Regions from separate parts of the Homo sapiens genome. Here regions 1 and 2 are each linked to region 3. The links come from fine-mapping of genetic effects on gene expression. A gene starts in region 3. Each other region holds a variant in brackets. All regions are shown on one strand. Distances are from middle to middle. Region 1 overlaps TRPM4 (transient receptor potential cation channel subfamily M member 4). Region 2 overlaps TRPM4 (transient receptor potential cation channel subfamily M member 4). Region 3 holds the start of TRPM4 (transient receptor potential cation channel subfamily M member 4).

Evidence for each region.
Region 1: its variant is fine-mapped to the expression of TRPM4 in blood mononuclear cells (TOPMed, PIP above 0.99). The same link has a PIP of 0.9 or more in monocytes and whole blood.
Region 2: its variant is fine-mapped to the expression of TRPM4 in fibroblasts (GTEx, PIP above 0.99). The same link has a PIP of 0.9 or more in esophagus mucosa, lung, nasal epithelium, sun-exposed skin and unexposed skin.

The regions. Positions count from the first base shown.
Region 1 is chr19:49,196,725-49,201,920 of GRCh38, reverse strand. TRPM4 (transient receptor potential cation channel subfamily M member 4) reads right to left here. Exons shown (of 25, transcript NM_017636.4): 17 at 5,047-5,196; 18 at 1,489-1,621; 19 at 1,136-1,310. Among named protein-coding and RNA genes, the nearest start is that of TRPM4, 42 kb to the right of the region's middle. RefSeq lists a silencer at 4,836-5,162. The variant C/T (reference allele first, on the strand shown) is at 3,198.
Region 2 is chr19:49,175,722-49,186,393 of GRCh38, reverse strand. It overlaps TRPM4 (transient receptor potential cation channel subfamily M member 4), which reads right to left. Exons shown (of 25, transcript NM_017636.4): 10 at 4,933-5,045; 11 at 3,472-3,816; 12 at 3,182-3,316. Among named protein-coding and RNA genes, the nearest start is that of TRPM4, 23 kb to the right of the region's middle. The variant A/T (reference allele first, on the strand shown) is at 5,065.
Region 3 is chr19:49,154,691-49,164,584 of GRCh38, reverse strand. TRPM4 (transient receptor potential cation channel subfamily M member 4) reads right to left here and starts at 6,793. Exons shown (of 25, transcript NM_017636.4): 1 at 6,695-6,793; 2 at 6,326-6,393. The coding sequence starts at 6,718. It overlaps HRC (histidine rich calcium binding protein), which reads left to right and starts at 9,189. Exons shown (of 6, transcript NM_002152.3): 1 at 9,189-9,894. The coding sequence starts at 9,348. RefSeq lists a silencer at 5,568-5,754 and an enhancer at 6,438-7,059.

The DNA.
Region 1 (5,196 bases), 40 kb before region 3:
CCTAAGAAAGACAGGAAGACTGCCGGGCGCGGTGGCTCACGCCTGTAATCCCAGCACTTTTGGGAGGCTGAGATGGCCGGATCACCTGAGGTGGGGAGTTTGAGACTAGCCTGACCAATGTGATGAAACCCCATCTCTACTAAAAACACAAAACTGTTAGCCAGGCGTGGTGGCACGCGCCTGTAGTCCCAGCTACTCGGGAGGCTGAGATAGGAGAATCGCTTCGATCTGGGAGGTGGAGGTTGCAGTGAGCTGAGATCGTGCCATTGCACTCCAGCCTGGGCAACAAGAGCAAAACTCCATGTAAAAAGTAAAGTACAGGTTCCTCTTCAAAGACTTTCCTCCCCATCTAATTAACAATAAATAGTAACTTCTCTTAGAAACAAAATTTATTCAAACACCTGTGCTAACATTCTTAAATATCTACTAGCCATAAAAAATAAATCAATGTACTTTATGTTCTTAGCTCTCACAATTTAGCCTAAATATTTGCCCTGACATACTTATACTGGTTCAAGCAAGCATTAGATCATAGCCTGTTCCTCTTCCTTATTTAAAAGTGTTTTTACCTTTCTCAACATTCCACAAGTTACTTCCTCCTTCCTTTGTTCTCCTCTGCCTTCGCTTCTTTTAAAAACTTCTAAGTTACTAGCCAATCAAGACAAATACAAAATGTAAAGTCCGGTTCCAGCCAATAAAAACCAGACACAGCAGTAAAATAGACGCGTCAGGTTATAAATGACCCTATCTCCTTTGTTCCGTGTACTCTCATGACAAAACTGCTGGCGAGTGTACCCTTTCTACAAAAAATAAAAATGGCTTTACTAAAAAAATTAAATTTATGTTCAAGTACTATTTCTTTACGACACCACAAAATAAACATTTCTAACATCCATCTCAAAAAAAAAGAAAAAAAAAAAGAAAAAAGAAAGACAGACAGAAAGACAGAGGGGGTGGGGTAGGCAGAGACCCAGAGAGATGATGATGGGGAATATAGGGTATCACTCAGAGATCCAGAGAAAGAGGGAGACAGAGACTCAGAGAGACAGATATTTTCTTAGAGCCAGGAGGACAGAGACCCAGGGAGCGGGGACAGAGACTCAGAGGAAGGCTGTCAGGCCGTCATCCCCCCTACCGTCCATGTCCTCCTGGGGAATCTGCCCGAAGATCTGCAGGTAGGGACGGTAGAAGACGCGGCGCAGGATACTTGGGAAGTCACTGTCCCGTGGCCTCAGGAGCCCCTCCGTGGCCACGCCATAGGCTACCAGCCACACGCCGAGGAAGAAGAGGAAGAAGAACACGTCCTTCATCTGTGGGGAGATGTGGCTGAGTCTGGCCCCGCCCTTTCCTACTCTGGCCCCACCCCTATATCCCAAAAACACGCCCCATTGCTCCCCAAAGTCACGCCCCTTCTCCACGGACCACTCCCTCCCTGGCCCCACCCCTTTCCCTATGTCCCCGCCCACTTTGGCCCCGCCCCTGCCTCACCATCTTGCTCACGATGACGATCTTGGGCCCCAGCTGTTTGTTGACCGTGAAGATGTGAAGCAGCCGCACCGTGAAAACCATGAAGTCGATGCAGAGGACAGTGCGGCCCAGGTGGTACAAACCCGGGGTCAGCCTGGGGTGTGGGGAGATGCCACAAGGGTCAAGTGTCACAAGACGCCAAGGAAAATGGAAGTCTTCCCAATGCCATCCTTCAGAGGAAGCTGCAGCCTCCACCGGGCAGGACCAGGACCCTCCCAGTCACCCGGGGTTTACTCAAATTTATTCAGTACCAAGCTGGTCCATGCAGGGCCCTGGCACCCATTTTTAAAATGGCTGCGCCTATTAAGTAATGACTGAATGAACGATGGCCTTAGCAAAGAGCTGGTCCCTGTAAGAATCAAGCTGGAAAAACTGCCGGAATATCTGTCCAACCTATAAAAGGCAAAACATATAGAGTCCTTACAAACTAATACGCAAAAGGAAGGAAGCCAGATAAAGGATACCACGTACAATTCACAGAGGACGTTCAAACGGCCAGTAAACATCAATAATTCCTATGGGGAAAATAAAAATTCTACCCCTATTTTGCATCCTCATGTACTTAAACTTTGGATGGATTAAAAACCTAGTGTATGGACAGACGCGGTGGCTCACGCCTGTAATCCCAGCACTTTGGGAGGCCGAGGCAGGCTCAAAAAAAAGAAAAGAAAAGAAACATACAAAAGTGAAAGTGAAAAGACAAGCCACAGACTTCGAGAAGATATGAAGATATTAAGACCAACAAAACTACCGAGGATTAGGATCCAGAGTATAAGGAGTATATACATTTATACATATACAAATCAATGAACCCCAATTAAAAAAACGGGAGGGTGGCCGGTCGCAGTGGCTCACGCCTGTAATCCTAGCACTTTGGGAGGCCGAGGCGGGCGGATCACGGGGTCAGGAGATCGAGAACATCTTGGCTAACACGGTGAAACCCCGTCTCTACTACAAAATACAAAAAATTAGCCGGGCGTGGAGGCAGGCACCTGTAGTCCCAGCTACTCAGTAGGCTGAGGCAGGAGAATGGCGTGAACCCGGGAGGCGGAGGTTGCAGTGAGCCGAGATCGCGCCACTGCACTCCAGCCTGGGCTACAGAGCGAGACTCCGTCTCAAAAACAAAAACAAAAACAAAAACCAAAAAAAAAACAAGGGGGCACAAGGACATATGGCCATTAAGCTTAGGAAAAGATGTCCAACCTATCTGGTAGTCAAGAGTGCATAAATTATAACAAGGAGAGGTCATGTTTACCCATTAAATTGGCAAATTTTTTTTCAGTTAAATTGAGAGCTACATTTTAGAGTGAAAGTATCAGGCATTGTCGAGCATGGCCTCAAGGGGGCACTCTCTTACCCTGATGGCAGGTGTGGAAATGAGTGAAGCTACTTAGAAGGAAATCTATCCATGTCAAAAATAAATGTACCCTTTGACCCATAAACTTTACATCTGGGATGTAAACTTTTATTATTTTGGAATAATAAAAAAACAGAAGGCTGAGCATAGTAGCTCACGCCTGTAATCCCAGCACTTTGAGAGGCCAAGGTGGGAGGATTGCTTGAGCCCTGGAGTTTGAGACCAGCCTGGGCAACAGAGTGAGACCCTGTCTCTATTTAAAACAAAAAAAGAAAGAAAGAGAGAACCTAAATGTCCATCTAGAGGGAACTGG[C/T]GAAACAAAGGATGATTCATCCATTCAATTCCGGAGATGATTAGACATTTCTCCCTTTTTTTTTTTTTTTTTTTTTTGACAGAGTTTTGCTCTTTTCACCCAGGCTAGAGTGCAGTGGCATGATCTTGGCTCACTGCAACCTCCGCCTCCCAGGTTCAGGCAATTATCCTGCCTCAGCCTCCCGAGTAGCTGGGATTACAGGCGCCTGCCACCATGCCCGGCTAATTTTTTGTATTTTTAGTAGAGATGGGGTTTCACCATGTTGGGCAGGCTGGTCTCAAACTCCTGATCTCAGGTGATCCACCCGCCTCGGCCTCCCAAAGTGCTGGGATTACAGGCATGAGCCACCACGCCAGGCCCGTTTCTCCCTTTTAAGCTGAGATCTTTCCATTTTTCACCTGGAAAGTGGTAGGCTTGATAAACTGTCCAAAATATCACTGGCAATCCTAGAGCATGGTAGCATATGGCCTTAGCCCTTTCATCTCAAAAGTCACTTTATACAAAATACAACAAATTACAAACAGAAGTATTAGTGTTCTGCAAAACTCTCATATCTTGCTCCCTGCTTGAATAAATTATTTATGTTGAATCACTTTGTAACACTGCTAACATAGCTTAGAGGAAGCCTGCCTCTCAGCGTGTCTACTGGGAAAAGCTTGAGTAGGGATCATCACTGTCATCACTGTCAACCATTCAGGATGTGTCAGGTCCCTTGTAAACAGTCACCAGGTTGTTGGCCAGGCACGGTGACCCACATCTGTAATCTCAGCACTTTCAGAGGCTAAGGCCAGTGGATCACTTGAGGCCAAGAGTTCAAGACCAGCCTGGTCAATATGGCAAAGCCCCATCTCTACAAAAAAAATACAAAAAAAATTTAGCTAGGTGTAGTGGTGCATGCCTGTAATCCCAGCTACTCACGAGGCTGAGGCAAGAGAATCGCTTGAACCCAGGAGGTGGAGGTTGCAGTGAGCCAAGATCGTACCACTGCACTCCAGTCTGGGCGACACAGCGGAACTCTGGCTCAAAAAAAAAAAAGAAAAGAAAGAAAACAAAAACAAACAAACAAACAAAAAACCAGTCACCAGGTTGTATCCACAAACTTTTCTGTTTGCTCTCCTCAAAAGGAGGAGTATCCTAATGCAGGATACTCCATAATGCAGGCAGGGCAAGGGTTAAACCCTTAGCTTGGAGGGATGGAAGGAAGCATAGAAGGAAGGAAGGAAGGAAGGAAGGAAGGAAGGAAGGAAGGAGGGAGGGAGGCAGAGGGGCAGAGGACAGAGGGAGAGAGAGAGAAAGAAAAGAGAAAAAGAAAAAGAAAAGAAAGGAAAAGAAAAGAGAAAGAAAGAAAAGAAAGAGAGAGAAAGAAAGAAAGAAAGAAAGAAAGAAAGAAAGAAAGAAAGAAAGAAAGAAAGAAAAAGAAAGAAAGAGAAAGAAAGAAAGAAAAAAAAAGGAAAGAAAGAAAAAGTCGGGGGCAGGAGGGCAAGGGGCCTGGGACCAACGAGCTATGTGGAGGAAGAGAAGGGAGGAGGTGAGGTTGGCACCCAGGTCGGGGCGCTCCCATAAATATCTGTTAAACTTCAGGCCTAGCAATAAATAGCAGCAGAGGCTGAGTGGCGGACAGTGGGGTTTTCTCCTGAATCCTGCCGTCCCTGAAGCCAGATCTCCAGGTGCCAGCCAATTACCCTGGGGCAATCGTCATGCCCGACTTTCCTAAGAGGGGTTCTCAATCAGCAGGGTTGGCTTGACCTGCTGCCCAGCTGCGGGGAAGCCGGGAGTGGAGACCCCGGGAGTGGGCAGGAAGGATGAGAGGTGGCCAGGGGCCAGGGTTCCAAGGCCCCGGGGCACTCACCGGCAGCCCACGCCCAGGAGGAAGCAGGTGAGAGCCACTAGGTCGCACTGGTTCCAGCTGTCGGCGAGGTAGAGGCGCAGGCGCTGGCTCAGTGAGGCATGGCCAGGCCCGGGGCCCCCGCTGGCGAGGCTGCCCCCGCCTCCGCTCAGG
Region 2 (10,672 bases), 21 kb before region 3:
GAGGCGTGCTCAGAAAATACCAGAGAAAACCTGAAGCTCTTACATCTGGCTGAACTTTAGGCTCTGCACAAGCAGGAAGTGAAGACTAAAGCAGAACTGTAAACAGCTTGGCTAAGTATTGAAAGACTGCTTCAATATACAGCCACGGTGGGCGTCGCTCATGCCTCTAATCCCAGCACTTATAGGGAGTTTCTTGTTATATTTGCTTCTGTGGTTCTAGGCATTTAAGGATATCTCTGTCAAGTCACCAGCAGACCACTAAGCTAACAGAAGAGGGGCTTCCATGGCCACACATGCAAAGAATACAGACTTTCCAAAAAAGGTTTAGAGAAGTCACTAAACAGGGTGGGCGCGGTGGCTCACGCCTGTAATCCTAACACTTTGGGAGGCCAAGGTGGGTGGATCACCTGAGGTCAGGAGTTTGAGACCAGCCTGGCTAACATGGTGAAACCCCGTCTCTATGAAAAATACAAAAATTAGCTGGGTGTGGTGGCACACACCTGTAATCCCAGCTACTTGGGAGGCTGAGGCAGGAGAATCACTTAAACCTGGGAGGTGGAGCTTGCAGTGAGCCGAGATTGCACCACTGTACTCTAGCCTGGGCCACAGAGTGAGACTCCATCCCCCCTCCCCCCAAAAAAAAGAAAAAGAAAAAAGAAAAGTCACTAAACAAACAACAATGACCCACAATGAGCAGCAGCCACAACAAACCCTGGAGGGAGGGCATAAGCTGATTTCCAGAGTTGCCACATTATCATATTCAAAATGTTCCACTTTTCAACCAAAAATTATGAGGCATGCAAAGAAACAAGACAATATGGTTCATATACTGGAAAAAAAAGAAATTAATAGAGACCAGGCATGGTGGCTCACACCTGTAATCCCAGCACTTTGGGAGGCCCAGGCAGGAGGATTGCTTGAGCCCAAGAATTCAAGACCAACCTGGGCAACATAGTAAGACCCCATCTCTGCAAATTTTTTAAAATTAGCTTGGCATGTGGCTGGTAGACCCAACTACTCAGGAGGCTGAGGTGGGAGGATTGCTTGAGTCCAAGAAGTCAAGGTTGCAGTGAACTTTGGTCAAACCACTGCAGTCCAGTCTGAGTGACAGAATGAGACTCTGTCTCAACAACAACAACAAGAACAACAAATAAATAAATAAAAGAAAAGAAATGAAATGAATAGAAATGAGTAGGAAAAAAATAAATGAATAGAAACTATCCCTGAGGAAACTCAGACACTGAACTTACTAGCAAAGGCTTTAAATAAATTGTCTTAAATATGCTCGAAGAGCTAAAGGAAATCATGAAAAAAGAACTAAAGGGAGCCAGGAAAAAGATGTCTCACCACCTAGAGAATAAGAATACAGAGATAGAGGCAGGGTTTCCTGAAACTGGGTTAATTCTTTATAGAAATGTGAACACTGAATTTATTTTTTTAAAAATAAAAATTAAAAAAAAAAGAAAAAAACACAGAAAACATCTTATCTGTATATAGGTCTTGAGTGAAGTGGCTGCTTTTTTTTCTGCTTTTTGTAGAAGAGATTGAGAATGGTACTGTAATCAAAAATAAAGTTTTGTAGTGGGACCAGGAAAAAAAAAAGACAGACTACAGAGGCCGGGCGCAGTGGCTCACGCCTGTAATCCCAGCACTTTGGGAGGCCGAGGAGGGCAGATCACGAGGTCAGGAGATCGCAACCATCCTGGCTAACACAGTGAAACCCTGTCTCTAAAAAAATACAAAAAAATTAGCTGGGCGTGGTGGCGGGCACCTGTAGTCCCAGCTACTTGGGAGGCTGAGGCAGGAGAATGGCGTGGAGGCAGGAGAATGGCGTGAACCCAGGAGGCAGAGCTTGCAGTGAGCGGAGATTGAGCCACTGCACTCCAGCCTGGGCGACTGAGCGAGACTCTGTCTCAAAAAAAAAAAAAAAAAAAAAAAAAAGACTACAGAGACAGAAATGAACCAAATAGAAACTCTGAAGCTAAAAAGCACAATAACTGAAATATAAAAACCACTAGAGGGACTCAACAGTAGATTCATAAAAAAGGCAAAATAAAGATCAGTGAATTTGAAGCTAAGTACATTGAGATTATCCAGCCTGAGGAGAAAAAAGAAAAACAAATGAAGGAAAATAAGCAGAGCCTAAGGGACTTGCGAGACACCATACAGAATATTAATACATACATAATGAGAGTCCAAAAGGAAAAGAGAGACAGAAAGGGAAAGAAATAATATTTGAAGATATAATGTCCTAAAAACTTCCAAAATGTGATGAAAGACAAAAGTCTACACATCCAGGAAGCTCAAGGAACTCCAAGTAAAAGAAATTCACAGGCCAAGCACAGTGGCTCACGCCTGTAATCCCAGCACTTCGGGAGGCCAAGGCAGACAGATCACAAGGTCAGGAGATCAAGACCACGGTGAAACCCCATCTCTACTAAAAATACAAAAAATTAGCTGGGCGTGGTGGCGGGCGCCTGTAGTCCCAGCTACTCGGGAGGCTGAGGCAGGAGAATGGCATGAACCCAGAAGGTGGAGCTTGCAGTGAGCCGAGATCATGCCACTGCACTCCAGCCTGGGCAACAGAGCAGGACTCCATCTCAAAAAAAAAAAAAAAAGAAAAAGAAAAAGAAATTCACAGAGATCCACACTGAGATATATTATCAAAGGCCAAAACAAAGAGAGAATCTTGGCCAGGCACGGTGGCACATGCCTGTAATCCCAGCATTTTGGGAAGCCGAGGCGGGTGGATCACTTGAGGTCAGGAGTCCAGCCTGGCCAACATGGTGAAACCCCATCTCTACTAAAACAAAACAAAACAAAACAAAAATTAGCCAGGCGTGGGGGCAGGTGCCTGTAATCCCAGCTACTCCGGAGGCTGAGGCAGGAGAATTACTTGAACCCGGGAGACTGAGGGTGCAGTAAGCCAAGATTGCGCCACTGCACTGCAGCCTGGGCGACAGAGCGAGACTCTGTCTCAAAAAATAAACACATAAAATAATGCATGATGTGAGAGAGAGAAAAGAAAGAGGAAGCAGTTGGAGGCATATATCAGCGACGGAGGATGGGGCGCCTGTCAGGTGACGTCAGGGGTCGGGGAATTGTATGGTAATTGTTTCGGGAACACTGGCATCCAGTGGCCTAAAGGACAGGGATGCAGGAGCGCCAAGTCAGCACTCACCATCTCCCAGAAGTACATGGCCATCTGTGCCCTGTTCAGCAACAGTGCCCAAAGAAGCAGGTCGCTCCAGGGGGCCTGCCCGAGGCCAGCATCCAGCGAGAGCGGCGAGGTGGCCTTGTCCGAGAGCAGATACATCTGCCAGCAAAAGGAGGGGTGGTGAGGACCAGCCCCTCCCCAACACTGGCCACCACCAGCCCTGCCTCTGGTTTGGCCACGCCCCATCCCTGATGTAATCCCGCCCCCAGGTCCTTCCCGCGCGGGGGGGCCCCCCAGCTTTGCCCGGTCCTTACGCTCTCCCCGAAGCCCTGGCCTGGGTGAGGGTCCCAGGCGCCCCCGGAGGGGTACCTCGGCGCGCACATCTTCCCCAGCAGCATCCTCAGCACATGCCCCACGTCAGGGGGCCGGAGCTCCGCAGCTCCCCCTTTTAGGGCTGGGGCTTTGGTGCCTGCGCTGTGGGACGCCTGGTCCAAAAGGTTGCGGATGAGCGAGTTGGAGGGCGCCGCGCTGTAGAGTTGGGCCAGGCGCATCGGGGTCAGGAAGTGGCCCAGGCTGAGGCCGTGGGAAATGAGCAAGCGCACGAACTCAGGCCGGTCATTCAGCAGGGCGTCCATGAGGGAAGCTTCGAGATGGAAGGACTGGCAGGGTGGGATGAATAGGGGAAGAGATTAGCTCAAAGGTTAAGGACAAGAGATGGGCAAGGGTATGAGGGACGGATGGATGGATGGATGGATGGATGGATGGATGGATGGATGGATGGATGGGTGGATGGATGGATGAATGGATAGGTAGATGGATGGATGGACAGATGGATGGATGGGCAGATGGATGGATGGATGGATGGATGGATGGATGGATGGACAGAGGGATGGATGGATGGACAGAGGGATGGATGGATGGACAGAGGGATGGATGGATGAACGGATAGGTAGATGGATGGATGGACAGATGAATGGATGGACAGATGGATGGATGGATAGATGGATGGATGGATGGATGAATGGATAGGTAGATGGATGGATGTATGGATGAATGGATAGGTAGATGGATGGATGGACAGATGAATGGATGGATGGATGAATGGACAGATGGATGGATGGATGGATGGATGGATGGATGGACAGATGGATGGATGGATGGATGGATGGATGGATGGATAAATGGATGGATGGACAAATGGATGGATGGATGGATAAGTAGATGGATGAATGAATGGATGAATGGATAGATGGAGGTACAGGGTGGATGGATGGATAGACAGATGGATGGGTGGGGAGAGAGGAAACAAGATGGGGCAGATGGACAGAGATGGATGGACAATTAAGGGAAGGCTGGACAGGCCATAATGGAAGGCAGGGTTGAGGGGCGTCTAAGAAGGCAGAGAGGCCGGGTGCGGTGGCTCATGCCTGTAACCCCAGCACTTTGGGAGCCTGAGGCGGGCGGATCACAAGGTCAGGAGATCGAGACCATCCTGGCTAACATAGTGAAACCCCGTCTCTACTAAAAATACAAAAAAATTAGCTGGGTGTGGTGGCGGGCGCCTGTAGTCCCAGCTACTCGGGAGGCTGAGGCAGGAGAATGGCGTGAACCCAGGTGGCGGAGCTTGCAGTGAGCTGGGATCACACCTCTGCACTCCAGGCTGGGTGACAGAGTGAGACTCCGTCAAAAAAAAAAAAAAAAAAAAAGAAGGCAGAGAGGGAGGACAGCACAGTCCCTTTGTCAGTATGCCCAACCCCCAGGCCCTGACCCCTCACCCGCCATTGGATGTCCCCCCGAAAGAGTTCACTCTGGGCAATGTCCACGCGGTTCCAAGCCACAGCCAAACGCAGCTCATCCAGGTAGGCTGAGGCCTCCGAGCTCCCACAGGCTGGAAGGATTAGAGGGAG[A/T]GGGGACAAGAAGTCAGGGGAGGAGGGACATCTGCTGAATGTCTATTTTGCCTCTATTTTGCATGTCTGACTTTTAAACTCTGCATAAAGGGGTTGCTACTGGGCAGAGTGTGGGGGTCTTAAAGCAGTCAGGCTATCATAGGCATAAGGTCATTTGGCTCAGGGCCAGAGCACAGACCACTGGTTTACAGCCCCCAAGAAGAAACAAAAGGAATCACTTATTCATTTAATATTTATTGAGGTATGTTATGGACCAAGCAGTGGGAGGGATGGAGAGAGAAATCAGATACAGTTCCTACCCTGAAGAAGCTGGTTCTATTGGGGGAAATATGTCCCCCCAACACATAACTACCCTCAGGGTGCTTGGTGCCCTCAGAGGTAGGCATATAATATGATTAGGATGGATGGATGGACAGATAGAAGGATGGATGGATGGGATGGATAAATGGATGGATGAAAGGATAAAGAGATGGATGAATGAACGGATGGATGGATAGATGGATGTACAGGGTGGATAGATGGATAGATGGACAGACGGATGGATGGGGAGAGAGGAAACAAGATGGGGCAGACGGACAATCAGAGATGGATGGGCGATTAAAGGGAAGGCTGGACAGGCCATAATGGAAGGCAGGGTGGAGGGGTGTCTAAGGAGGCATCTATAGGCATATAATATGATTAGGGCCCAGAGGAGGATATGGTCACAGAGGTATAGAGTGGCCCAAGAGAGCTCCCAGAGAATGGGTGTTGAGGTAGCACTTTGAAAGACCACCAGGACTGGGAGGTATGCCCCTAAGGTGCGAAAAGGGCGTTCAAAGCAGCAGGCACAGCAGAAGCAAAGGCCCGGGTGCAACACACACACACACACACACACACACACACACACACACACACACACACAGCAGATGATGACAAACGTGAGTCACTCTGATTTCTGAAACTTGGGGTATATTGTGAAGGGAAAGAGGTGACAACAGCAGAAAATGAGAACAGGAGAGGGACTCCGAGAGACCCTGGAGGTCACTGAAACAGCAAGAGAGAACCAGAAACCCTTAAAAATTTGATCCAGCTATGTAGTGGATCCAAACATGTGCAGTCAACAGGGGCATGAAAAGTCCTGAAGGGCATTTGTCGTGACATGGAGTTAGGTTTCCTTCTGCCTCCACTTGCTCCATATCTATCTCCAAAACAAATTCATCTCATTTTGGTTGCTCCAAAAACTGGTACCACAGAAAGAGATAATCTCATGTAGTGGAGGTGAGCAATAGGCTCTGGGGCAGGCAGACGTGGGTTCCAGTCCCCGGTCCACCAGTACCAACTGAGTGACTTCAGGCAAGCCATTGAACCTTGGGAGCCTCAGTTTCCTCATCTATTAAATGGGAAATAGTGGCACCCCCTTCATAGCACTGTAATCAATTACAGTAACTGTGGGAAGAAGTTCCACGCTGTGGCGACACTACAGCTTGGCCAGTGTAACCTCCAAGGCTGTGCTTGAGGAAACAGAGGCCCAGAAAGGCAGTAACATGTCTAGGACCTCATGGCTTTCTGTGCTCTTTCAAAACCCAGACGTCCATTCAGAGCGGACTTTTCCACGACTTTCTACGATTCTATGAAGCTCTCCTACTTTCCCCACAGTTTCAAAAGAAGGAAACAAAATTGTTCATAATATCTTGCTTTACAGGCCGGGCGCCGTGGCTCACGCCTGTAATCCCAGCACTTTGGGAGGCCAAGATGGGCGGATCGCCTGAGCTCAGGAGTTCGAGACCAGCCTGGGTAACACGGTGAAACCCCATCTCTACTAAAATACAAAAAATTAGCTGGGCATGGTGGCATGCGTCTGTAGTCCCAGCTACTTGGGAGGCTGAGCAGGAGAATCGCTTGAACCCGGGAGGTGGAGGTTGCAGTGAGCCGAGATCACGTCACTGCATTCCAGCCTGGGTGAGAAAGGGAGACTCCGTCTCAAATAATAATAATAGGCTGGATGCTGTGGCTCATGCCTGTAATCCCAACACCTTGGGAGGCCGAGGTGGGCGAATCACCTGAGGTCAGGAGTTCGAGACCAGCCTGACCAACATGGAGAAACCTCGTCTCTGCTAAAAATACAAAATTAGCTGGGCGTGGTGGCTCATGCCTGTAATCCCAGCTACTTGGGAGGCTGAGGCAGGAAAATCGCTTGAACCCGGGAGGTGGAGGTTGCAGTGAGCCAAGATCACGCCATTGCACTCCAGCCTGGGCAACAGAGCGAAACTCTGTTGCAAAAATAATAATAATAGGCCGGGCACAGTGGCTCACACCTGTAATCCCAGCACTTTGGGAGGCCGAGATGGGTGGATCATGAGGTCAAGAGATCGAGACCACCCTGGTTAACACAGTGAAACCCCATCTCTACTAAATATACAAAAAATTAGCCGGGCATGGTGGCGGGCGCCTGTAGTGCCAGCTACTCAGGAGGCTGAGGCAGGAGGATGGCATGAACCTGGGAGGTGGAGCTTGTAGTGAGCCAAGATCGTGCCACTGCACTCCAGCCTGGACGACAGAGCAAGACTCCATCTCAAAAAAAATAAAAAAATAAAAATAATAATAATAATAATACCTTGCTTTATATTCCGCCTTAATCTGGCACCATTTGTCACCTGGGCACTCGACCCTGGCCCCACCTTGTCCCTTCAGACTCACCGTGTTCCATACTCAACTCAGCATCTAGCCCTCAAACCCATCTTCCCTACGTCCTCATCTCAGGAATGGCCCCTCTGTCCACCCAATCAATAAGGCAGACCCGCAGGTACTGTCCTTGTCCCTTCCTGCTCCTCCCATCTCACAGGCCATCAGCCCCCAAGCTTCATGTCCCACGTCCAGCCTCCTGACTCTCTGCTGAGCCTCCCCGACTGTCCTCCTGGCCCCAGCTATAGCTCAAGCTTCGGCACCCCCAAACACCATCACTGCAGTCTCTTCTCTCCTCTCCACTCTGCCCCCACCCACTCCCAGAGAGTCTGTTTTTGTTTTTTGAGACAGGGTCTTCGTCTGTCACCCAGTCTGGAGTGCAGTGGCGCCATCACAGCTCACTTCAGCTTTGAGACCTCCCAGGCTCAAGCGATCCTCCTGCCTCAGCCTCCCGAGTAGCTGGGACTACAGGCGCACAGTACCATACCCAGCTAATTTTTTATAGACATGGGGTCTCACTATGCTGCCCAGGCTGGTCTCAAACTCCTGGGCTCAAGCGAACCTCCTTCCTTAGTCTTCCAAGGTGCTGTGATAATAGGCATGAGCCTTCACGCTTGGCCAGAGAGTCTTTTTTATCCACATAACGGACCCTGGTCCTCTGCTGCCTCTCAAGGACAGCCTTAGCCCCTCTGCCTGGCATTTGAGGTCCTGGGTGGTTTGGCCCTACCTGCCTCACTGGCCTTGTCTCCAACACTCCCTTCATGCCAATGATACATACCAACCCTGCGAGCCTCTGACCTCTCTCCAAACATGCCCCTTGCAATGGGCTTGAGAATTATACAGACTCACATGAAAAGCCTGACCCCTGCTACTAGCTGGATGACCCTGGGCAAGCCATTTTTCCTCTCTCTGAGCCTCAGTCTCTTCATCTGCAAAATGGGGTGATAATCCTTGCAGGCAGGGAAGGGAGATGAAGGGCAAAAGAGTACACCAACTGCCCAGCACTGGGCCTGCCTATGCTAGACTCTTAGGAAGGATTCATGGGCCAGGGGTGGTGGCTCACACCTGTAATCCCAGCACTTTGGGAGGCCGAGGCAGGCAGATCACGAGGTCAGAAGGTCGAGACCATCCTGGCCAACATGGTGAAACCCCATCTCTACTAAAAATACAAACATTAGCCAGGCATAGTGGCAGGTGCCTGTAGTCCCAGCTTCTCGGGAGGCTGAGGCAGGACAATCGCTTGAACCCGGGGGTTGCAGTGAGCTGAGATCACACCACTGCACTCCAGCCTGGGCGACAGAGCGAGACACTGTCTCAAAAAAAAAAAAAAAAAAAAAAGACGCATTCATGACCTTGCCCTTCTTTCTTGCTGAAATTCCATCCATTCAACTCTGCTATCCCCAAGCCTATCAGCCATCTCCAGTTCCCCCAGTGGACTGTGATCACTTCCACTCCTGCTGGGCTTACAACACCACCCCCTCAAACCACATCTTGCAGAGCTGCCGTATTTTCTCCCAGGAGGCTGCTGAGTTAACTTCCGCAGAGTGAATCAGATTTGCCCACTGAGAGTTACCTTATATTGAAGGATGTACCCCCAGAGGAAATGGAATCATATTAAGAGGAGATCCCTCTTATTGGGCCCCCACCGGGACCGGGCACAACTCATACCTTGCCATGGAGGCTTATAACACTCCTGTAAGATATTATCTCCACTTTCCACAGAGAGAAACTGGGGCTCAGAGAGGGGAAGCTGCTTCCTCAAGACCACACAGCAAGAAAGGGCCAAGCTGGTTTGTTTCTTTTTGATTGTTTGTTTTTGAGACAGAGTCTCGCTCTGTCGCCCAGGCTGGAGTGCAGTGGCACGATCTTGGCTCACGGCAACCTCCACCTCCTGGGTTCAAGCGATTCTCCTGCCTCAGCCTCCCAACTAGTTGGGATTACAGGCACCCGCCACCACGCCAGCTAATTTTTGTATTTTCAGTAGAGACAGGGTTTTGCCATGGTGGCCAGGCTGATCTCGAACTCCTGACCTCAAGTGATCCTACCTCAGCCTCCCAAAATGTTGGGATTATAGGCGTGAGCCACTGTACCCGGCCCAAGCTGGTATTTAAATTCAGTTTTGTCTGATTCCAAAGCAAAAATAACTTGCTCTTTCTACCCTACCACAGCCTGTACTATACCTAGCACTTTGGGAGGTCAAGGCAGGAGGATCTCTTCAGCCCAAGAGTTCAAGACCAGCCCAGGCAACATAGGGAGACCCTATCCCTATAAAAAAATTAAAAATAAATTAGCCTGGTGTGGTGGCGCACAGCTACTCAGAGGCTGATGCGAGAGAATCACTTGAGCCCAGGATCTCAAGGCTGCAGTGAGCTATGATTGTCCCACTGCACTCCAGCCTGGACAACAGAGTGAGACTGTCTCAAAAAATACCTAAAAATGAATTAAGGCCGGGCGCGGTGGCTCACACCTGTAATCCAAGTACTTTGGGAGGCCGAGGCGGGTGGATCACCTGAGGTCAGGAGTTCAAAACCAGCCTGGCCAACATGGCGAAACCCTGTCTGTACTAAAAATACAAAAATTAGCCGGGTGCGGTTGTGGGCACCTGTAATCCCAGCTACTCAGGAGGCTGAGGCAGGAGAATCGCTTAAACCTGGGAGGAGGAGGTTGCAGTGAGCTGAGATGGCGCCATTGCACTCCAGCCTGGGCGACAGACAAAGACTCTTTAAAAAAAAAAAAAAAAGAGGCCGGGCGCCGTGGCTCACGCCTGTAATCCCAGCACTTTGGGAGGCCGAGGCGGGTGGATCACAAGGTCAGGAGATCGAGACCATCCTGGCTAACACGGTGAAACTCCGTCTCTACTAAAAATAGAGAGCCCAACTACTCGGGAGGCTGAGGGAGGAGAATGGCGTGAACCCAGGAGGCAGAGCTTTCAGCGAGCCGAGATCGC
Region 3 (9,894 bases):
CATGGTGAAACACTGTCTGTACTAAAAAAAATACAAAAATTAGCTGGTCGTGGTGGCGGGTGCCTGTAATCCCAGCTACTCAGAAGGCTGAGGCAGGAGAATTGGTTGAACCCAGGAGGCAGAAGTTGCAGTGAGCCATCACACTATTGTACTCCAGCCTGGGAGACAAGAGCGAAACTCCATCTCAAAAAAAAAAAAAAAAAAAAAAAAAAAAAAAAAACTAAGGAAAGAAAGGAAGGAGGGAGGGAGAGAGACAGAGAGGGAGGAAGGAAAGGAAGGAAGGAAGGAAGGGAGGGAGGGAGGGAGGGAAAGAGAGAGAAAGAAAGAGAAAGAGAGAAAGAAAGAAAGAGAGAGAGAAAAGAAAAGAAAAGAAAGAGAAAGGAAGAAAGAAGGAGAAAAATGTATCTAAATTCTTTGTTCCAGATTCCAGGAGTTCAGATATCAGGGGAGACCTGTATTTACACAAACCTAGTGAGCAGATTTAAGAGCAATTTTACAGAAGGGATAGCAGAGGTGCTACAAGGATTTGGCAAAAGCCGTAAAGACACTAAAAGAACGGCTAACTGATCCACACATGGGATGAACCAAACACACTTAGGCCAGGTCCTGGCACAGTGAGAACTACAATAAAGTGTCTTCTTCATTCCTGAGTCTACCTCCAGGGCCCTGGCATGCCTCAGTTTACCGACTTTGTCCGTTCACCCATTTCAGCTCCATCCTTGAATCCCCTAGTTCCCCTGCAGCTACTTCCAACACCTGCAGCTACTTCCCAGAAAGTTTGCTCTTCTGAGCAAAACTTCAAGGACGGCTGGGCACAATCCAAGCACTTTGGGAGGTCAAGGCAGAAGGACTGCTTGAGCCCAGGAGTTTGAGAACAGCCTGGGCAATAGAGCGAGACCCCATCCCTACAAAAAAAATTGTTTTAATTAGCCAGGTGTGGTGGTGCACGCCTGTGGTTCCAGCTACTCAGGAGGCTGTAGCAGGAGGATCACTTGAGCTCAGGAGTTCAAGGCTGCAATAAGCCATGATCACACCACTGCAGTTCAGGCTAGGCAACAGAGCAAGACCATGTCACTAAAAATAAGAAATAAGGCCGGGCATGGTGGCTCATGACTGTAATCCCAGCACTTTGGGAGGCCAAGGCGGGCGGATCATGAGGTCAGGAGTTCGAGACCAGCCTGGCCAACATAGTGAAACCTTATCTCTACTAAAAATACAAAAATTAGCCGGGCATGGTGGTACGCGCCTGTAGTCCCAGCTACTCAGGAGGCTGAGGCAGGAGAATCACTTGAACCTGGGAGACGGAGGTTGTGATGAGCAGAGATTGTGCCACTGCACTCCAGCCTGGGCAACAGAATGAGACTCTGCCTCAAAAAAAAAAAAAAATAATAATAATAAAATAAAAGCTCTTCACGGAATAGTCTGGAGCTTGTACTGTCCAATGTGATAGCTGCATGGGTTCTTTGTAGCCATGGAGCTCTTTCTGTTCTAATAAGTTAAAATTAAATCAAATAAAAAATTCAGGTCAAGTGCAGTGGTTCATGCCTGTAATCCCAGAACTTAGGGAGGCCAAGGTGGGCGGATCACCTGAGGTCAGGACTTTGAGACCAGCCTGGCCAACATGGTGAAACCCTGTTTCTACTAAAAATACAAAAATCAGCTTGGCATGGTGGCGGGTGCCTGTAGTCCCAGCTACTCGGGAGGCTGAGGCAGGAGAATGGCATGAACCCGGGAGGCGGAGGTTGCAGTGAGCCAAGATTGCACCACTGCACTCCAGCCTGGGCGACAGAGCGAGACTCCACCTCAAAAAAAAATTCAGTTTCTCAGGTACAATGGCCATATTCCAAGTGCCCAGTAGCCCCCTGTGGCCAGGACTGCCATATTGGATGTAGACATAGAACGTTTCCAAAATCGTGGAAAATTCTGACATTCAGTGCTAGGAGCCATTCCTTCTGCACAGCTTGCCTCCTACACTCTTTCCTCGGTGGAGCCACAGAAACTGAAATAAATTGTTTTTTTGTTTGTTTGTTTGTTTTGTTTTGTTTTGAGATGGAGTCTCGCTCTGTCTCCCAGGCTAGAATGCAGTGGTACGATCTCAGCTCACTGCAACCTCTGCCACCTGGGCTCAAGCGACTCTCGTGCCTCAGCATCCTGAGTAGCTGGGATTACAGGCATGTGCCACAGTACCTGGCTAGTTTTTGTATTTTTAGTAGAGATGGGGTTTTACCACATTGGCCAGGCTGGTCTCAAACTCCTGACCTCAAGTGATCAGCCCACCTCGGCCTCTCAAACTGCTGGGATTACAGCTGTGAGTCACTGTGCCTGGCCTGAAATTGTTCTTGATAAAAATCATCAATTTCCTGCCTGGCTCCATATACAACGGCCCTTATTCAGGTTTCATCTGACTGTATCACAAGTGGCCCTGGCTACAGCTGAAAGGCTCTCATTCTGGAAACCCTCTCCTTGGCAGGATACCCCTGCCCCTCTGGCCTTCCTCCCCGCCCCGGCTGCTTCATGCCTGACTTGTTTGTGGCTTTCTCTTGCTTTTCACCTCCCTTGAGTGTAGGTGTTCCCAGTGCAAGCCTTCCCTACATGATTCTCAAACCCAATGTGTGCAGAGGCCAGTCAAGTAACTCAACAGAAAGAAGTAGCCAGGGCCAGGAGCAGTGGCTCACACCTGTAATCCCAGCACGTTGGGAGGCCCAGGTGGGCAGATCACTTGAGGTCAGGAGTTCGAGATCAGCCTGGCCAACATGGTGAAACCTTGTCTCTACTAAAAGTACAAAAATTAGCCAGGCGTGATGGTGGGTGCCTGTAATCCCAGCTACTCGGGGGGCTGAGGCAGGAGAATCGCTTGAACCCAGGAGGCAGAGGTTGAAGTGAGCCGAGATCGCACTACTGCACTCCAGCCTGGGTGATAGAGCGAGACTCCGTCTCAAAAAAAAAAAAGAGGTAGCCGGGTATGGTGGCTCTCGCCTGTAATTCCAGCACTTTGGCAGGCAGAGTGAGGTGGGAGGCTCACTTGAGTCCAGGAGTTGGATACCAGCCTGGTCTGGTATCAAAGGGAGACCCGGTTTCTACAAAAAATTTTAAAATTAGCCAGGCATGGTGGTGCATGCCTGTGGTCCCAGCTACTCCGGAGGCTCATGTGGGAGGATCGCTTGAGCCCAGCAGGTCAAGGCTGCAGTGAACCATGATCGTGCCACTCCAGCCTGGACAACAGAGCAAGACCCTGTCTCAAAAAAAAAAAAAAAAAAAAAAGAGAGAGAGACAGAAGACAGATATTTTTAAATGCTCTTCTAAACACACACACACACAAACACACGCACACAATTGGCTATAGAATTGCCAGTTTGCAACTCCCCTGACTTTACACGTTGTTTTCCCTGTGACGTCTTACCTACTTCCAGTTTCAATTACCAGCTACAACTCGGACCTCTCAGATTCTGGACATTAGTCCAGACCTTTCCCAATCTCAGTCCCCACATGCCCCTCGGTCCCCCTAGGCCGCTCATATGCACAGATTCCCACATTGCACTCAGCGACATTTCCCAAACCTGCTTGCCCTCCTGAGCTCTCCATCTCAGGGACAGCCCCACTGTGTCCCAGTCAGCAGAGCATACGTCCCGGAGCCATCCACCGATGGCGGCACCCCCTCTCTCCCTCATCACCCTCATCAAGCCCCAAGCTCTGCCTTCCTGCCCCCTGAGTCTTTGCCCCATGCCCTCCTCTCTGTGTCCCGAAAGCCCTGACCTGGCTCAGGCCACTACCCCTCCCGCTCAGACGCTCTCTACAGCCTCCTCCCGAGCTCCTGTTCATCCTCTCCCAGCCCCAGAAAGTTTTTCCACACCCAGAGCCAACCCCACTGCTGCGGTGATGCCCCAGCTCCCAAGGACAAGATCCCAGCCCCTTAGGGTGGCCTCTGACACCCTGCAAGCTCTGGCCCTGCCCTCCTCTGCAGCCTCTTCTCTCATGACAGTGCTCCCTGCACCCTGAACTTTGATTCATATTCAAGCCAAACCATATGGTCCTTAGCAAGGACTTTGCACATGCTGTTCAAATCACTTTTTTCTTTCTTTCTTTCTTTTTTTTTTTTTTTTTGAGATGGAGTCTTGCTCTGTCACCCAGGCTGGAGTGCAGTGACGTGATCTCTGCTCATAGTAGCCTCCGTCTCCCAGGTTTAAGTGATTCTCCTGCCTCCTGAGTAGCTGGGATTACAGGCATGCGCCAATACGCCCAGTTAATTTTTGTATTTTTAGTAGAGATAGGGTTGCACCATGTTAGCCAAGCTGGTCTCGAACTCCTGACTTAGGTGATCCACCCGCCTCGGCCTCCCAGATTGTTGGGATGACAGGCGTGAGCCACAATGCCCGGCCCCAAATCGCTTTCCATGGGCCTCTCTCCAGCTCACTTTCAAATGTCACCTCACTAGCCACTCTTCCTCCCTCCAGAAACCATTAGTGACATTTTGTGTCCCCTCCCAGTCTTAAGCAAACACCTCCTCCCAGCTCTCACAGAGCCCAGTGGCTCGTCTTTGGGAGCTGCAACCCCTTGCCTTACTATAATTATCTTCTGCGTTTCTTCCTCCTCAGGCCAGACCAGAGTTTCCTAAATTGTCTTGACCACACTGACCTATCAGTAAAAAGGTTTTGAGCACTCACGTCCAACAAGCGCATATCTGTTTATTTATCCATCATTTACAAGCCATACTGCACTAATATATAGTCATAACAAAATACACACTGAAGTAGGAATGTGGATACTTCCCGCACCCCAAAAACTGTCTTGAAAAACAACTAGAGGGCTGGGCGCGGTGGCTCACACCTGTAATCCCAGTACTTTGGAAAGCCAAGGCAGGTGCATTGCCTGAGATCAAGAGTTCAAGACCAACCTGGGCAACAGGGTGAAATCCCGTCTCTACTAAAATACAAAAAATTAGCTGGGCATGGTGGTAGGCACCTGTAATCCCAGCTACTAGGGAGGCTGAGGCATGAGAACTGCTTGAACCCAGGAGGTGGATGTTGCAGTGAGCTGATATCGCAACACTGCACTCCAGCCTGGGCGACAGAGCCAGACTCTGTCTCAAAAAAACAAAAAACAAAAAACTAGAAAGCCTGGGCCAGGTGCGGTGGCTCACACCTGTAATCCTAGCGCTTTGGGAGGCCGAGGCCGGCGGATCATGAGGTCAGGAGATCGAGACCATCTGGCTAACACGGTGCAACCCCGTCTCTACTAAAAAAAAAATACAAAAAATTGGCCCAGCGCGATGGCTCACGCCTGTAATCCCAGTACTTTGAGGGGCTGAGGCGGGCGGATCACAAGGTCAGGAGATCGAGATCATCCTGGCCAACACGGTGAAACCCCGTCTCTACTAAAATACAAAAAATTAGCCGGGCGTGGTGGCGGGCGCCTGTAGTCCCAGCTACTCGGGAGGCTGAGGCAGGAAAACGGCGTGAACCCGGGAGGCGGAGCTTGCAGTGAGCCGAGATCGCGCCACTGCACTCCAGCCTGGGGGACAGAGCGAGACACCGTCTCAAAAAAAAAAAAAAAAAAAAAAAAACTAGAAAGCCTGGATCCGCTTGAGAGGCCGTCACTGAAGGGCGGGAGCTCCTCGCGGACGCACACACCCTATCTAGCTCAATTGGTGTCCCCGGCCACCAAGACAGGGCCCGCCCGCGGTAATAATTGCCACCTCCCAGTGGGAGCTGCAGATATTTCCCAGCGTCCTGTGCTGGGCGCTGTGCCAGGAATATCACAAGCATTAACTTGTTTAATTCTCATAATAACCCCAGGAGATCAAGCCTCTTTTGATGCCCAGATGAGAAACGGGACCCAGAGAGGTGAAATGATTTGCCCGAAGCCACACAGCACGTGTCCCAGGGGAAATTGGAACCCTGGCAGGGCCGTTGAATTAGGCTAAAGGGACCTTGGGAGCGCTGAGTGAGGGTTTCTTGCATGGATGGATGAATGAATGAATGAATGAATGAATGAATGAATGAAACAGAAATACCCAAAAGGGAAAGACAGAGACACAGAAAGTGACACGAAGAGACAGAAGCACATAGAAGAGACATCGGGGAGGAAAGAAGCAGAACCGAGCCCTGGAGCGTCTACACTGACCCTGAGCGGGAGAATGGCGAATGGGGAATGAGGGGTGTCTACACAGACCCAAACGCTCCTAGAGGGAGAGCGTCGGCAAGGAACGCCCTTGGGAAGGTCCCCGAGTCCAGGAATGGGGAAGGAGCAGGGCTGGGGCGTGACCATCCGCGGGCGGGGTCAGCGGGCCGCGGACCCTCTGGGGTCAGTCCAGGGGCGAACTCCTCACCCCGGATCTGTGGAGTCAACTATGAACGTCGTGCAGGTCTTCTTCTTGAAGATCTTGGGGATCCAGCTCTGGGGACAGGAACAAATGTAGGGGTGGAAGTGGGGTGAGAGGGCACCCAGTTCTGTCCTATGGGACACAGAGCCACCCACCCCGTGCGCTCCCCACGGACACAGGAGTCCGGGCCCCCAGCGCCCTCCCGCTCCAGACTCAGGAGTCTCGACCCCCATGCCCTGGACCCTGGAACCTGGACCCTCCCATCCCCCTCCTCCGTCTGACCCAGGAATCTGGGTGTCCAGCGCCCTCCTCTCTGGGAGCCTGGAGGCGAGGTCCCCAGCTCCGCGCTCCCGCAGACCCTGGTCCGGCGCTCACCTGCTCCTTCTCCGGCACCACCATGCTGCCGCGGCCGCCGCAACCTCCTGCAGCCCAGGGCCCCGGCGCTCCCTCCGCCGGCTCTGCTTCCAGACCCGCCCAGAGCAAACCGGATCCTCCACTTTCCAGCCTAGCCTGGGGCGGGGCGAGGTCTGGGGGGCGGGGAGTCTTGGAGACGCCAAAGCGGGAGGCGGGGAGAGGGCGGGTCCCAGGCCGCGATAAGGGGACAGAGGGACAGCGACCTGGGGGGTGCAGAGGTCCGGGCCGGGGGGAGAGAGACACACAGGGGAGACTCCAAGGGCAAGCGCGAGATGGGAACAGAAGGAGTTGGGGGCCAGTGGCGGAGAGGGAACAGACTCAGAAAGGAGGATGCCAGACAGGGAGGGGACAATTTAACCCAAAGAGGGGGAGACAAAGACTTAGGGGACAGAGAATCAGAAGGTGGGGCAGCAGGGACCCAGGGATAGACAGAGAGAGAGGGGGACAGAGACCCACAGAGAGAGGGGGACAGAGACCCAGGGAGAGGGGACAGAGACCCAGAGAGAGTGGGACAGAGACCCAGAGAGAGTGGGACAGAGACCCACAGAGAGAGGGGGACAGAGACCCAGGGAGAGGAGGACAGAGACCCAGAGAGGGGGGGACAGAGACCCAGAGAGGGGGGGACAGAGACCCAGGGAGGGGGGGACAGAGACCCAGGGAGAGGGGACAGAGACCCACGGAGAGGGGGACAGAGACCCAGGGAGAGGGGACAGAGACCCAGAGAGAGGGGGACAGAGACCCAGAGAGAGGGGGACAGAGACCCAGAGAGACGGGGACAGAGACCCAGAGAGAGGGGGACAGAGACCCAGAGAGAGGGGAACAGAGACCCAGAGAGAGAGGAGGACAGAGACCCAGAGAGAGGGGGACAGAGACCCAGAGAGACGGGGACAGAGACCCAGAGAGAGGGGGACAGAGACCCAGAGAGAGGGGAACAGAGACCCAGAGAGAGAGGAGGACAGAGACCCAGAGAGAGGGGGACAGAGACCCAGAGAGGGGGGGACAGAGACCCAGGGATGGGGGGACAGAGACCCAGGGAGAGGGGACAGAGACCCACGGAGAGGGGTACAGAGACCCAGGGAGAGGGGACAGAGACCCAGAGAGAGGGGGACAGAGACTCTGAGACAGAGGGGGACAGAGACCCTGAGAGAGGGGGACAGAGACCCAGAGAGAGGGGAACAGAGACCCAGAGAGAGAGGGGGACAGAGACCCACAGAGAGAGGGGAACAGAGACCCAGAGAGAGGGGGACAGAGATCCACAGAGAGAGGGGGACAGAGACCCACAGAGAGAGGGGAACAGAGACCCAGAGAGAGGGGGACAGAGATCCACAGAGAGAGGGGGACAGAGACCCAGGGAGAGGGGGACAGAGACCCAGAGAGAGGGGGACAGAGACCCAGGGAGAGGTGGACAGAGACTCTGAGACAGAGGGGGACAGAGACTCTGAGAGAGAGTGGGGACAGAGACCCAGAGAGGTGGATGCCAGAGATGGGGAGGAGACACCTTGACTGAGGCAAGGGGCAGAGGGGGATGCAAAAACCAAAGAATTGGGGGAAGGGCAGGAACTCAGAAAGGAGGGGCCAGAGATTTAGGGGAGAGAGAGGGACACAGACTTGGGGGAGGACTGACACTAAGATAAGAGTGGGACAGAAGCCCAGAGTGAGAGGGAGAGGCAATCCCATGGAGGAGGGACAGGGACCCTGAGAGAGCAGATGACAGAATTGAAGAGAGAGGAGGACCCGTGAACAGGAAAGGAGACCCTAGTGGGGGCAGTCATGAAGGGTGAGGAGTAGGAAATACTGACACACAGAGACGGGCAAGGCCACTTGTCTCCTGCCAGCCCTCTGTGATGGGGACAGCTGTGGCCTCCGTAACCTGAGTCCCCCTACCCCTCCCAGCTGTATTTATAGCCCTGGCCTAGCCCAGTCCCTGCCCCCAGATCTGAGTTCCAGGGACAGGAGGTCATGGGCACGTGTGTTGGGGGCCATGTTCCTTTCCCCCCATTCTAGGGCCTCAATACTGACATCACTCTCTCACCAGCACGTATCATTCCAGCTGGAAACACCCCGCAATCGAACCCCCAGTCCTTCCGTCCCAGGAGTCTCTCCCCTCTGATAAGTCTCTTCTGCCTCCCCCAGGTGCCCCAGGCTCCCCCAAAAACCTGCTAAAAGTCTAGCCTTTGTCTTTGCAGCTGCCAAACGTGAGCTTGTTGGTAGTTCAAAGTCAAGTCCCTTGGCCACCGTCTCCTGGCCAGGGAGAGACCCCTCACTGGTCCCCTCCCCAGCTGGGAGGAGGAGGAGCAGGAGGCAGGCAGGCGGGGACTGACCCAGAATAACTCAGGGCTGAGAGTAAATTTAGCTGGAGAGAGGGGAGGGGAAGGACCCTATTGGCTGGGGAATGGGGAGGGAGGGCCCCAGAGGGGGGTCAGGGGGCTCCGGAGACAGCCTCAGAGGGGTGTCCAGAGCCAGGCAGCAAGGACCAGAGGAAGGTGGACAGAGACCGAAAGGACAAAGGAGAGACACAGAGAAAAAAAGAGACCAACCCCAAAGGGACAAAGACCCCAACGTTTGTCCACATTGCCGCAGAGGCAGCTGGAGCCAGTGCTGCCTGTCCGTCCCCATGGGCCACCATAGGCCATGGCTGCACGCTTCTGTCCTCTGGGCTGGGGTGGCCAGCCTGCTCCTCCCCCCGGCCATGACCCAGCAGCTCAGAGGGGATGGGCTAGGCTTCAGAAACCGGAACAACAGCACTGGAGTCGCCGGGCTCTCCGAGGAGGCATCAGCAGAGCTTCGCCACCACCTCCACAGCCCTAGAGACCATCCAGATGAGAACAAGGATGTTTCCACAGAGAATGGGCATCATTTCTGGAGCCACCCAGACCGTGAAAAGGAGGATGAAGATGTCTCCAAGGAATATGGGCACCTACTCCCAGGCCACAGGTCCCAAGACCACAAAGTCGGAGATGAGGGTGTCTCAGGTGAGGAGGTCTTTGCAGAGCATGGTGGGCAGGCCCGTGGGCACAGAGGCCACGGGAGTGAAGACACGGAAGACTCAGCTGAGCACAGGCACCACCTCCCCAGCCACAGGAGCCACAGCCATCAAGACGAGGATGAGGATGAAGTTGTGTCCAGTGAGCATCACCATCATATCCTCAGGCATGGACACC